2 separate regions of the Homo sapiens genome follow, and region 1 is linked to region 2. Evidence: fine-mapped expression QTL. A gene starts in region 2. The other region holds a variant in brackets. All regions are shown on one strand. Distances are between the middles of the regions.

What was found. PIP is the estimated chance that this variant, and not a neighbour inherited with it, causes the effect.
Region 1: its variant is the best candidate, but not a certain one, in a credible set for the expression of NCLN in whole blood (INTERVAL, PIP 0.61).

What each region holds. Positions count from the first base shown.
Region 1 is chr19:3,203,002-3,208,435 of GRCh38, forward strand. NCLN (nicalin) reads left to right here. Exons shown (of 15, transcript NM_020170.4): 7 at 755-843; 8 at 1,004-1,143; 9 at 1,572-1,750; 10 at 2,938-3,025; 11 at 3,151-3,189; 12 at 3,261-3,424; 13 at 4,197-4,250; 14 at 4,390-4,468; 15 at 4,628-5,434. The coding sequence ends at 4,687. Among named protein-coding and RNA genes, the nearest start is that of CELF5, 19 kb to the right of the region's middle. The variant C/CCCCCGG (reference allele first, on the strand shown) is at 3,071.
Region 2 is chr19:3,183,091-3,188,312 of GRCh38, forward strand. It overlaps NCLN (nicalin), which reads left to right and starts at 2,840. Exons shown (of 15, transcript NM_020170.4): 1 at 2,840-3,124. The coding sequence starts at 2,941. RefSeq lists enhancers at 1,918-2,800, 2,107-2,246 and a silencer at 2,757-3,326.

The DNA of each region.
Region 1 (5,434 bases), 20 kb after region 2:
AATAGCCAAGGCTGTGTTCCATTAGAATTTTTGGCCTGCCTGGGTGGCTTATGCCTATAATCCCAGCACTTTGGAAGCCTGCGGCAGGTGGATCACCTGTCAGGAGTTCGAGACCTGCCTAACGTGTTGAAACCCTGTCTCTACTAAAAATACAAAATTAGCCAGGTGTGGTGCTGCATGCCTGTAATCCCAGCTACTTGGGAGGCTCAGGCAGGATAATTGCTTGAACCCGGGAGGCAGAGGTTGCAGTGAGCCGAGACTGCACCATTGCACTCCAGCCTGGGCAGAAAGAGCGAAACTCCGTCCCAAAAGAAAAAAAAAAAAGAATTCTTCTTCTTTAAGTGAATAGACTTTATTTTTTTGATCTCCTCGTGTCTGTTGCCTGGTCGGTCACCCCGGTTCCTCCTGGGCTCAGAGAAGCCTCTAGAGCTGGGGTCTAACGTGGGGTGGCCCTGCTGCCTGGAGACACTGAGTGATTTGCAGTTGTCATTGGGGGAAGCTCCCGGTATGGGGTGGGTGAGGCCAGGGATGCCACTCAGCACCCTGAAGTGCCCAGGACAGCCTCACCTCAGAGAACCATCCAGCCCCAGTGTCCACAGGGCCGAGGGGTCATGCCCCGCCCTAAGGGGCTGGTCAGGATTTCCTGCTTTGGGGAGACCTTCATACCCTTCCTGGGGGACCTGTGACCTGGCCTGGTCCCTCCTCCACCCCAGGCGCTTGCCCGTCAAAGCTAACACTGGGTCTTCCCTCCCAGCTACAACCTCCTGTTCTTTGCGTCTGGAGGAGGCAAGTTTAACTACCAGGGAACCAAGCGCTGGCTGGAAGACAACCTGGACCACACAGGTGAGCGGCCCCGGGTGGGGGTGGGGGTGCCGCGGTGGTGGTGCCGTGGGGAGGCACGGAGGCCCAGGGGTTGCCATGGGGGCAGCCAGGAGGCACAGAGGGAGGGCCGGGGGCCACTTCCTGGTCCCCACCCACCCCGCCAGCTCTCGGTGTCCTGCAGACTCCAGCCTGCTTCAGGACAATGTGGCCTTCGTGCTGTGCCTGGACACCGTGGGCCGGGGCAGCAGCCTGCACCTGCACGTGTCCAAGCCGCCTCGGGAGGGCACCCTGCAGCACGCCTTCCTGCGGGAGCTGGAGACGGTGGGTGCCCCTTTCATGGATGGGTCCGGAGCTCTGCGGAGCACACACATCGGGGCCGGGTTGGGGCATCCTGTCCCAGGGTGTCCTTGCTGTCCGCCCCTCAGGCTCTGAGGGCCACACTGTGTCGGGGTCGGGCTGGGGTGTTCTGTCCTGGGGTGTCCTTGCTGTCCAACCCCGGGGCTCTGAGGGGCACACTGCGTCAGGGCCGGGCTGGGGTGTCCTGTCCCAGAGTGTCCCCTTGTCCCTCCTTACCCACTGCTCATTGCCCGCCGGGGCTCCAGCAGGCCTTAGGGGGACCCCGGGGGCAGGTGGATTTCTCCTCATTTTGCACCCTCGGGGGTTCTGGGAGGCCCCTGGAGCATTTGGGGAATGGGCTGGGGTGGCCGCCATCCCCGCCTGCCCTCTGCTAATGGCGCCTCCGGCTGCAGGTGGCCGCGCACCAGTTCCCTGAGGTACGGTTCTCCATGGTGCACAAGCGGATCAACCTGGCGGAGGACGTGCTGGCCTGGGAGCACGAGCGCTTCGCCATCCGCCGACTGCCCGCCTTCACGCTGTCCCACCTGGAGAGCCACCGTGACGGCCAGCGCAGCAGCATCATGGACGTGCGGTGAGCGCGGCAGCACCTGCCCGGCCCCTCCTAGGGCTTTCCTGGGGGCTGAGCCACTGGTCGCAACTGCAGAGGCCATGAGAGCCTGGAGGGAGCGGCCCCCACACACAGGCTGCGAGGAAGGGGCCGGTGCGTGGCCAAGGCCGGCTGCACGGTCAGGCCGTTCGCAAGCTCTTCCTTACTGGGGCTAGGGAGGGCGAGGCCAGCAGCCTGAGGTCGTGGCCCCATATAGGACCCCCAGACCCCGTCACCTGTTGAGTTAGGAGCAAGCAGCTCCTGCCTCTGGGCCTCTTCAGGGCCCTGCCACAGCCCGAAAGTCCTGCCTGGCCCCGGCCACCGTCTTGGGGAGCCTGGCCCGCCACCACACCCCGGCCCTTCCTCGCCCCGCCTCCCTCTGGGCACTGTGTCTCTGGCTTCTTATGTCCTCTGACCCTGTGTCCTGCCCGTCTCTCTGCCATCATGTGAGCCCCTGGGCAGGCTTTTGTGGAGCCTGGAACTGTCTGGCCACCCCAGGCACACTCCTGGCCAGTCCTGGCACCAGCAGGTGGGCGCCGTCTCCTCCCCCAGCGCCCGCAGTCCCGGCATAGATCCTTCCCGTTCATCCACTCTGCTCTGCGGTCACTGGGCCCTCAGGAGTGGTTTGAGCTCAGCCATCGGAGGCCTGCAGAAGCCAGTGGCGGGAGGGAGGGGCACATCCCTGGGTAATCGCAGTCCTGGAAAGGATGGAGGTGGCGGTCGCCCACCAGCCAGGAAAGATTGCCAGGAAATGAGGGTGGGTGCACGGCTGTCCCAGCTGTGCTGAGCTCTCTCAAGACCACCAGGGGTCAGCCCAGGAGGGCCACCTGGGATTTGCAGAGGGTCCCAGAATGGATTCTTCCACCAGGACGGAATAGTCCAGTTTAAATTCTGGAAGAGCAGAAAACCGAGTCAGAAGGAACCAAGGCCTCAGGGCGTGAGCCTTACCTGCGCACAGGGACGGGTCAGGGCAAGGGGCCTGGAGGTGTGGGGCCCCCAGTGAATCTGCATCTACATGTTAGCCAAGTAGTTAAAGCTAAGCTTAATTTTTTTTTTTTTTTAAAGACAGAGTCTCACGGTCTCCTAGGCTGGAGTGCTGGGATTACAAGTGTGAGAGCTACCTTGCCTGGCCCAAAGTCCACATTTTAAAACATTGTTTTTGAATCGTGAAGGTCCCGGGTGGATTCTAAGACCCTGACCCGTAACACGAGGATCATTGCAGAGGCCCTGACTCGAGTCATCTACAACCTGACAGAGAAGGTGAGCCCTGAGCCCTCTGTGCCGCCAGACCCAGCCCCAGCCCTG[C/CCCCCGG]CCCCGGCCCCGGCCCCACCCCTGGCCCCAGCCCCACTGCAGGGGCCTGGACTCAGGGCCATCCCCTCCTCTCTCCGCAGGGGACACCCCCAGACATGCCGGTGTTCACAGAGCAGATGGTAAGGGGGCCAGGCCAGTGGGTGGGTGGGTGGGCGGGGCCAGGCCATGACTACCACCACCGTCCCTACAGCAGATCCAGCAGGAGCAGCTGGACTCGGTGATGGACTGGCTCACCAACCAGCCGCGGGCCGCGCAGCTGGTGGACAAGGACAGCACCTTCCTCAGCACGCTGGAGCACCACCTGAGCCGCTACCTGAAGGACGTGAAGCAGCACCACGTCAAGGCTGACAAGCGGTGAGGCTGGGGCTCCGCGCTGGCCCCGTTCAGCCTGGGGCCGAGGGGGACCTCCCCCTACTGCATCTCCCACCCCCTCACCCCTGGGGGATGCCAGGTGGAGCAAATACAAAGAGAGGGTGGGATGAGGGCCGGACACGGCGGCTGTGCCTGCAATCCCAGTACTTTGGGAATCCGAGGCAGGTGGATCACTTGAGGTCAGGAGTTCAAGACCAGACTGGCCAACATAGTGAAACCTCATCCCTACTAAAAATACAAAAATTAGGCGGATGTGGCAGTGGGCACCTGTAATCCCAGCTACTTAGGAGGCCGGGACGGAAGAATCGCTTGAACCCAGGAGTTGGAGACCAACCTGGGCAACATAGCAAGACCCCATCTCTACAAACTTTTTAAAGTTTTTATTTATTTGTCTTTGAGATGGAGTCTTCCTCTGTCACCCAGGCTGGAGTGCAGTGGCGTGATCTTGTCTCACTACAGCCTCCATCTCCCGGCTTCAAGTGATTCTCGGACCTCGGTCTCCTGAGTAGCTGGGATTACAGGCACCCGCCACCATGCCCGGCTAATTTTTTTTAATTTTTAGTAGAGATGGGGTTTCACCGTGTTGGCCAGGTTGGTCTTGAACTCTTGACTTCAAGTGATCCGCCTGCCTCAACCTCCCAAAGTGCTGGGATTGCAGGTGTGAGCCATCGTGCCCAGTCTCCATCTCTACAAACCCTTTTTTAAGAATTAGCTGGGCGCAGTGGTGCCCCCTGAGAAAGTGCTCTCTCCCCAGGGACCCAGAGTTTGTCTTCTACGACCAGCTGAAGCAAGTGATGAATGCGTACAGGTGAGTGGTGGCCAGCGGGACCTGGAGCCCTTCACCCCCTACGGGTTACAGCCGAGGGGACTGCGGCCCACGGGGGTCTAGGGGTTCATGTTACTGCCGCGCACCATCCTCGACCTCAGGGACCCTGCTTTCTCCACAGAGTCAAGCCGGCCGTCTTTGACCTGCTCCTGGCTGTTGGCATTGCTGCCTACCTCGGCATGGCCTACGTGGCTGTCCAGGTGAGCAGTGCCCAGGCTCAGGTGGGGCAGGGGCCGCCCGCCGGGAGGAGCTGGGCTGGGCGTCTCCAAGTGCATCCTGGCCCCTGGCTCAGCCTAGAGTCACATGACCTGGGGCTCTGGCCCCGCCCACATCCTCACTCCCTCCTGCTGTGTCCCCAGCACTTCAGCCTCCTCTACAAGACCGTCCAGAGGCTGCTCGTGAAGGCCAAGACACAGTGACACAGCCACCCCCACAGCCGGAGCCCCCGCCGCTCCACAGTCCCTGGGGCCGAGCACGAGTGAGTGGACACTGCCCCGCCGCGGGCGGCCCTGCAGGGACAGGGGCCCTCTCCCTCCCCGGCGGTGGTTGGAACACTGAATTACAGAGCTTTTTTCTGTTGCTCTCCGAGACTGGGGGGGGATTGTTTCTTCTTTTCCTTGTCTTTGAACTTCCTTGGAGGAGAGCTTGGGAGACGTCCCGGGGCCAGGCTACGGACTTGCGGACGAGCCCCCCAGTCCTGGGAGCCGGCCGCCCTCGGTCTGGTGTAAGCACACATGCACGATTAAAGAGGAGACGCCGGGACCCCCTGCCCGATCGCGCGCGGCCTCCGCCCACCGCCTCCTGCCGCAAGGGGCCTGGACTGCAGGCCTGACCTGCTCCCTGCTCCGTGTCTGTCCTAGGACGTCCCCTCCCGCTCCCCGATGGTGGCGTGGACATGGTTATTTATCTCTGCTCCTTCTTGCCTGGAGGAGGGCAGTGCCAGCCCTGGGGTTCTGGGATTCCAGCCCTCCTGGAGCCTTTTGTTCCCCATGTGGTCTCAGTGACCCGTCCCCCTGACAGTGGGCTCGGGGAGCTGCATCACCCAGCCTTCCCCTTCTCCGACTGCAGGGTCTGATGTCATCATTGACAGCCTTTGCTTCGTGGGGGCCTGGCAGGGCCCCTGCCTCCCCGACCCCCGACCCACTGCAAATCCCCGTTCCCCTGCA
Region 2 (5,222 bases):
TTCCAAATAACATCCTATGCTGAGGTCCTGGGGGTTAGGATGTGATCATGTAGATTTTGATGGGACAGTTCTTTATTTTCTTTTATATTTTAGAGACAGGGTCTTGCTCTGTCACCCAGGCTGGAGTGCAGTGGTGTGATCATAGCTCACTGCAGCCTCGATCTCTTGGGCTCAAGTGATCCTTCTGCCTTGGGTTTCCGAGTAGCTGCAATTACAGGTGCACACCACCACACCTGGCTAATTTTTATATTTTTTGTAGAGACGGGGCTGGGTGCTGTGGCTCACCCCTGTAATTCCAGCACTTTGGGAGGCCGAGGCAGGTGGATCACCTTAGGTCAGGAGTTTGAGACCAGCCTGGCCAACATGGAGAAACCCCGTCTCTACTAAAAATACAAAATTAGCCAGGCGTAGTGGTGCATGCCTGTAATCCCAGCTACTTGGGAGGCTGAGGCAGGAGAATTGCTTGAACCCGGGAGGCCGAGGTTGCAGTGGACTGAGTTCGTGCCACTGCACTCCAATCTGGGTGACAGAGCAAGACTCCGTCTCAAAAAAAAAAAAAAAAAAAAAAGAGAGAGAGAGAGAGAGACAGGGTCTTGCTATGTTTCCCAGGCTGGTCTCAATCTCCTGGGCTCAAGTGATCCTCCTGCCTCAGCCTCCCAAAGTGTTGGGACTACAGGCATGAGCTACTGTGGCTGGCCAATTGCAGACAGATGGAACTGTGGCCAGCCACTTCACCAGTGAAGTCCCAAACACCCCTCTGCAGGCATGATAAGCTAGGGTAGTTCTTATCTTTTCCTGATTCCTGTTCTCTGTGTGTTTAGTGGGGACCACAGCAGGCAGGGTGGGGTGTTGGTGGAATTTGGGATAAGTGGAGTCTGGGCAGGCCTGGAGCTCTCTGTCTGCCTTCTGGGCCCGTGTTGGCTGACCCTGTTGCCCCCTCTGCCCTGCTTTGGCTGAGCTGAATTATTTCTTGGTCCTTCCCTTCTGGGGGCTTCTCGCTTAACCTCCTTTGTTGTCCCTGATAAAGGGGCCTTGTTAGCCCGCACCTTCCCTCCTTCGTCACTTGACTTCTGCCTGCTCATTCTTTGTACCTTAGTTTTAGCGTCACCTCCTCCAGGAAGTCTTCTTTGATTTCTCCTCCTCCCTAGGTCTCCTCTAGGCTCCCACAGCTGCCTGTGTTCCCTGCATGACAGCTCTGCTTTATACTGGGCACAACTTTCCCTCTTTCTTCACTCATCTGCTCTGGCTCATCTTTTGAGTTTCAGCTTAAGTGTCACCTCCTCCAGGAAGCCTCCTCTGATTTCCTCTCCTCCCTAGGCCTCCTCTGGGCTTCTCCCAGCTGCCTTTGTGTCCTCTATCCCAGCTCCCATCACCCCTGGTCACACAATCCACCTCCTCCTTTGGACTTCGAGCTCCGTGTCGGTGGATAGTGTGGCTTTGCTGGGGTCCCGGCTGTGTCCCCAGCACCCACCACACGGCTGGCACACAGTAGGTGCTCAGTGACCCAGCAGCACACTCAGAAACTCCCTTTCTAGCCGGGCGCGGTAGCTCACGCCTGTAATTTACAGCTACTCAGGAGGCTGAGACACAGGAATTGCTTGAACCCAGGAGGTGGAGGTTGCGGTGAGCTGAGATCAAGCCACTGCACTCCAGCCTAGGTGACAGAGACTACATCTCAAAAACAAACAAACAAACAAACAAACAAACAGAATTCTCACATGCTGCTGGCAGGGAGAGTGCTTGATTCTTTATCATTATATCTGAGGAAACTGAGACTCTGAGAGGTGAAGCGACTTGCCCAAAGCCACACAGCTGGGAAATGGAGGAGTTGGGATTTGAGCCCAGGCTCTTAATCGGCACCAATGCCACTTCTCACTTGGGACAGAAAGGAAGCCCTGACTCCTTAGGCAGCTGTACGGAGCCTGGGATGATAACGTGCTGAGAGCCAGGGCTACTGTCTGCTGCACCCTGGGGCTCAGTCTCCCCATCTGTACAAAGGGACGTTCCTTAGGTACCTCCAGCCCTGAGACACTGGGTTTTAACTTTAAATTTCTGATGAACAACAAATACTTTTTTAGTATAAGTATGCCCCAAATATGAATAAAGATAAATATAAATACCTGCCACCGACCCCTGCACAAACCGCAGGTTCCAGACTACAAGTCCCACAACCCACTGCGGCCTCCCTTAGGAACTGACTATCATGACTTTCTATTTTTCATTCATTCATTCAAAAATGGTATAGGCCACCCGCCGTGCGCCAGGTCTTGTGCTAGATGCCGGGGATACATCATATGCACAAAACAGACAAAAGTTTTTGCCTTCGTGGAGTTTGACATCTACATCCTCGGGAGTTTTAAGTGATTTTTGTTTTTCTCAGCAATTTCTGCCAGGACGACTACAGTTCCCGTGACCCTTTGTGTGTTTGACGGGACTACAACTCCCAGAAGACCTAGCGCGCCAGGCAGGCACTTCCTTTTCTCTTTATCCCCAACTTCCTTCCAGGTCGCAAGGTCACGTCCTGTCCCCACCTTTCGCCCCTCACCCTAGCTCCCCCAACGCCAAAGACAAGGTTAAGAAAGTGATATCGCGAAATAGTTTTTTAAAGCATTTTATTGCATTTTATGACTTGGAGTTTATGTGAAACCTCAACGGTATTAGCCGAACAGCCTGCCGCACCTTCCGGGAGTTCCAGAGTGGGCCTACAACTCCCACAGGGCTCCGCGAGCGCCGGACGGACGGACTACAATTCCCGACAGGCAGCGCGGCTGGCGGGGCGGTTCGCCGCGGTGCCCACAGGACCTCAGGGCGAGTGCGGGCTGCCCCGCGCGGCGCCCGCAGGACCCCGGCGGCTACCCATGCCGAGGTGAGTCCGCGGGAGCCGCCGCCGCCGCCGTCCCGTCCCAGCTGCCGCCCCGCGCGGCCCCGCCGCCGGCCAGGATGCTGGAGGAAGCGGGCGAGGTGCTGGAGAACATGCTGAAGGCGTCTTGTCTGCCGCTCGGCTTCATCGTCTTCCTGCCCGCTGTGCTGCTGCTGGTGGCGCCGCCGCTGCCTGCCGCCGACGCCGCGCACGAGTTCACCGTGTACCGCATGCAGCAGTACGACCTGCAGGGCCAGCCCTACGGTGCGTGTCCCCGGCCCACCCTCGGGGCTCCCCGGGCTCCCCGGCCACGCCACTCCGGCCCGGCGATCCCCAGGCCGATCCCTAGCTCCGGCCTGGGCTGCCCGACCCATGCTCAGGCCCCAGGCGAGGCAGAGCCCTGCCGCCCTGGACCCCCGGGCGCCCTGGAATCCCTGCTCTCCTTGCCTAGCGCCCAGGGACCCCCCGCGCTCGCTCCCACAGCCCCCGGCCCCTGCCTAGGTCTCCCTGCCCCGGAACCCATGGCCGGGCCAAGCGTCCCGCGTCCCTGGAGCCCTAAGTCCCCTCTCTCCTGTCCCCAGCTGGGCCGGCGTCTGCCTGCCTTGCCGAGTTTCTCCCTCCTGGGCCCCCTCCGCCCCTTAGGCTTCCTGGTCCGGGCTCACTTGAGCAGACGCTCCCGTCCTGACCTCCAGCTCCCAGGGTCCTGTTCTGGAGACCATCTGGTTGGTCTCTGGATTCACTGGGTCACGTCCGTGTTCCCAGGCCTCTCGCCTTTAGCTGACTGCGTTTGGAGTTAAAGGTCCCTGCACTGATTTCTGCCAGGCTGAGCCACCCGACGCGGTGGTCCAGCATTCCCCACCCCCTCCCACGGCCCTGGGTGCCAAGTGCATTTTGTCCAGTGCCCAAATTCAACTCCCCTGAATTTTCTCGCTCTAGTCACCGGCCCCCACGTCAAGGGCACATTTGTCCCCAGACCCCTGACGCTCTCTGGTCCCAGTTCGTGAGTCATGTTTCAGAATCTGCTAGCCCAGCTTCCCTGGTCTCCTCCCACGTCCCCAGTTCAGTCCACTCGCCTGGGGTTCCCTTTGACCCCCTTTCTGTCCCGCCTTTGATGCATACCCACGCCCTCAGCTCAGCCTCCTCACACCCACTTCCCAGAACCCCACTTGTTCCATCTTTCCAGGATTTCCTCTTCCCTTTCCAAATTCGCACCCCCTTGCCCTTGCATTCTGCAAGTCTCCCACTCAACAGCCTCGCCCCCTCCCGTCGTGGCCCTGACCCCAGTGTCTAGACCATTCCACATCCCCTTGTCTTTGCCTGGCTATAGCTGTCCCTGACATTCCAGAACCTGGTCCCTGGTTTTTCTTCTTTTCAGCCTGGCCCCTCAGGTCCCTGGAAGTCAAGGCCTGGCCTTCCCTGTGAAGGAGTCCCGTCCGCTTGTTCTCCTGGCCCCCTTAGTTCCCAGCCCGGATTCTCTTGGATTGGTCCCTCTCGTCACATCTCAGGCTCAACCTGAGGCGCGGGGACCCCCAGCTTCTGCCAGCCCTTGGGGAGCCCATCTCTGGAGATGGAACCAGACTTTGGCCTCAGGTCCCATTTTGCCCCAGAGTTACGATTTTTTTACTTAGAGCCATTGTTGTCAACCGAGGGGACGCTGGGTGATGTCTGGGGACATCTGTGGTTGTCACGACCACGGGTGCTCCTGGCATGGAGTGGGTGGAGGCCAGGGACGCTGCTCAATTCCCTGTAGTGCCCAGGACGGCCCCACCCCAGAGAACGATCCGGCCCTAATGTCCACAGTGTCCAGGGGAAGCGCCCTGGGGCCACAGTGGTGGTGTATAAACCCAAGGCCCAGGCTCTGGAGGGTGGGAGTGGAAGGCCAGAGGCTCCTCATGCAGTGACCGCGTTTTCCGTGCTGCTTGGGATTTTCCCGGGGGAAGGGTCCTGACGGGCACCATCCTGTAGAATCGCCTCCATCTTTGCTGCCTGGCACAGGAGCCAGCAGCCACAGGAGGCTGCCGAGCCCCCAAAGCGTGGCCTGTGCAACCGGGGGGCAGGATTTTCAGCGCTGCTTGAGGGTAATAAACGCAAGTAGCCACGCGTGCCTGCGGCTCTCATAGCGGCTTCCGTGGGGTTTCCAGGGCAGTCTGCACCCCAAAGACCCCACTCCTAGAGCTCGAGATACCCTGTTCACACTCTTGGCATCTCCTGCCTGGTCCTCCAGCTCACCCGGCCTCCCTCCAGCCCCCCGGGCAGGTGTGATCTGGTGGCTGCTACACTGTCCCTGGGCAGGTGTGGGCCCCCTTTCTCTCCCCAAGAACCCACCCAGGGAATGCATGTTGGCGGCTCCCTACACTGTCCC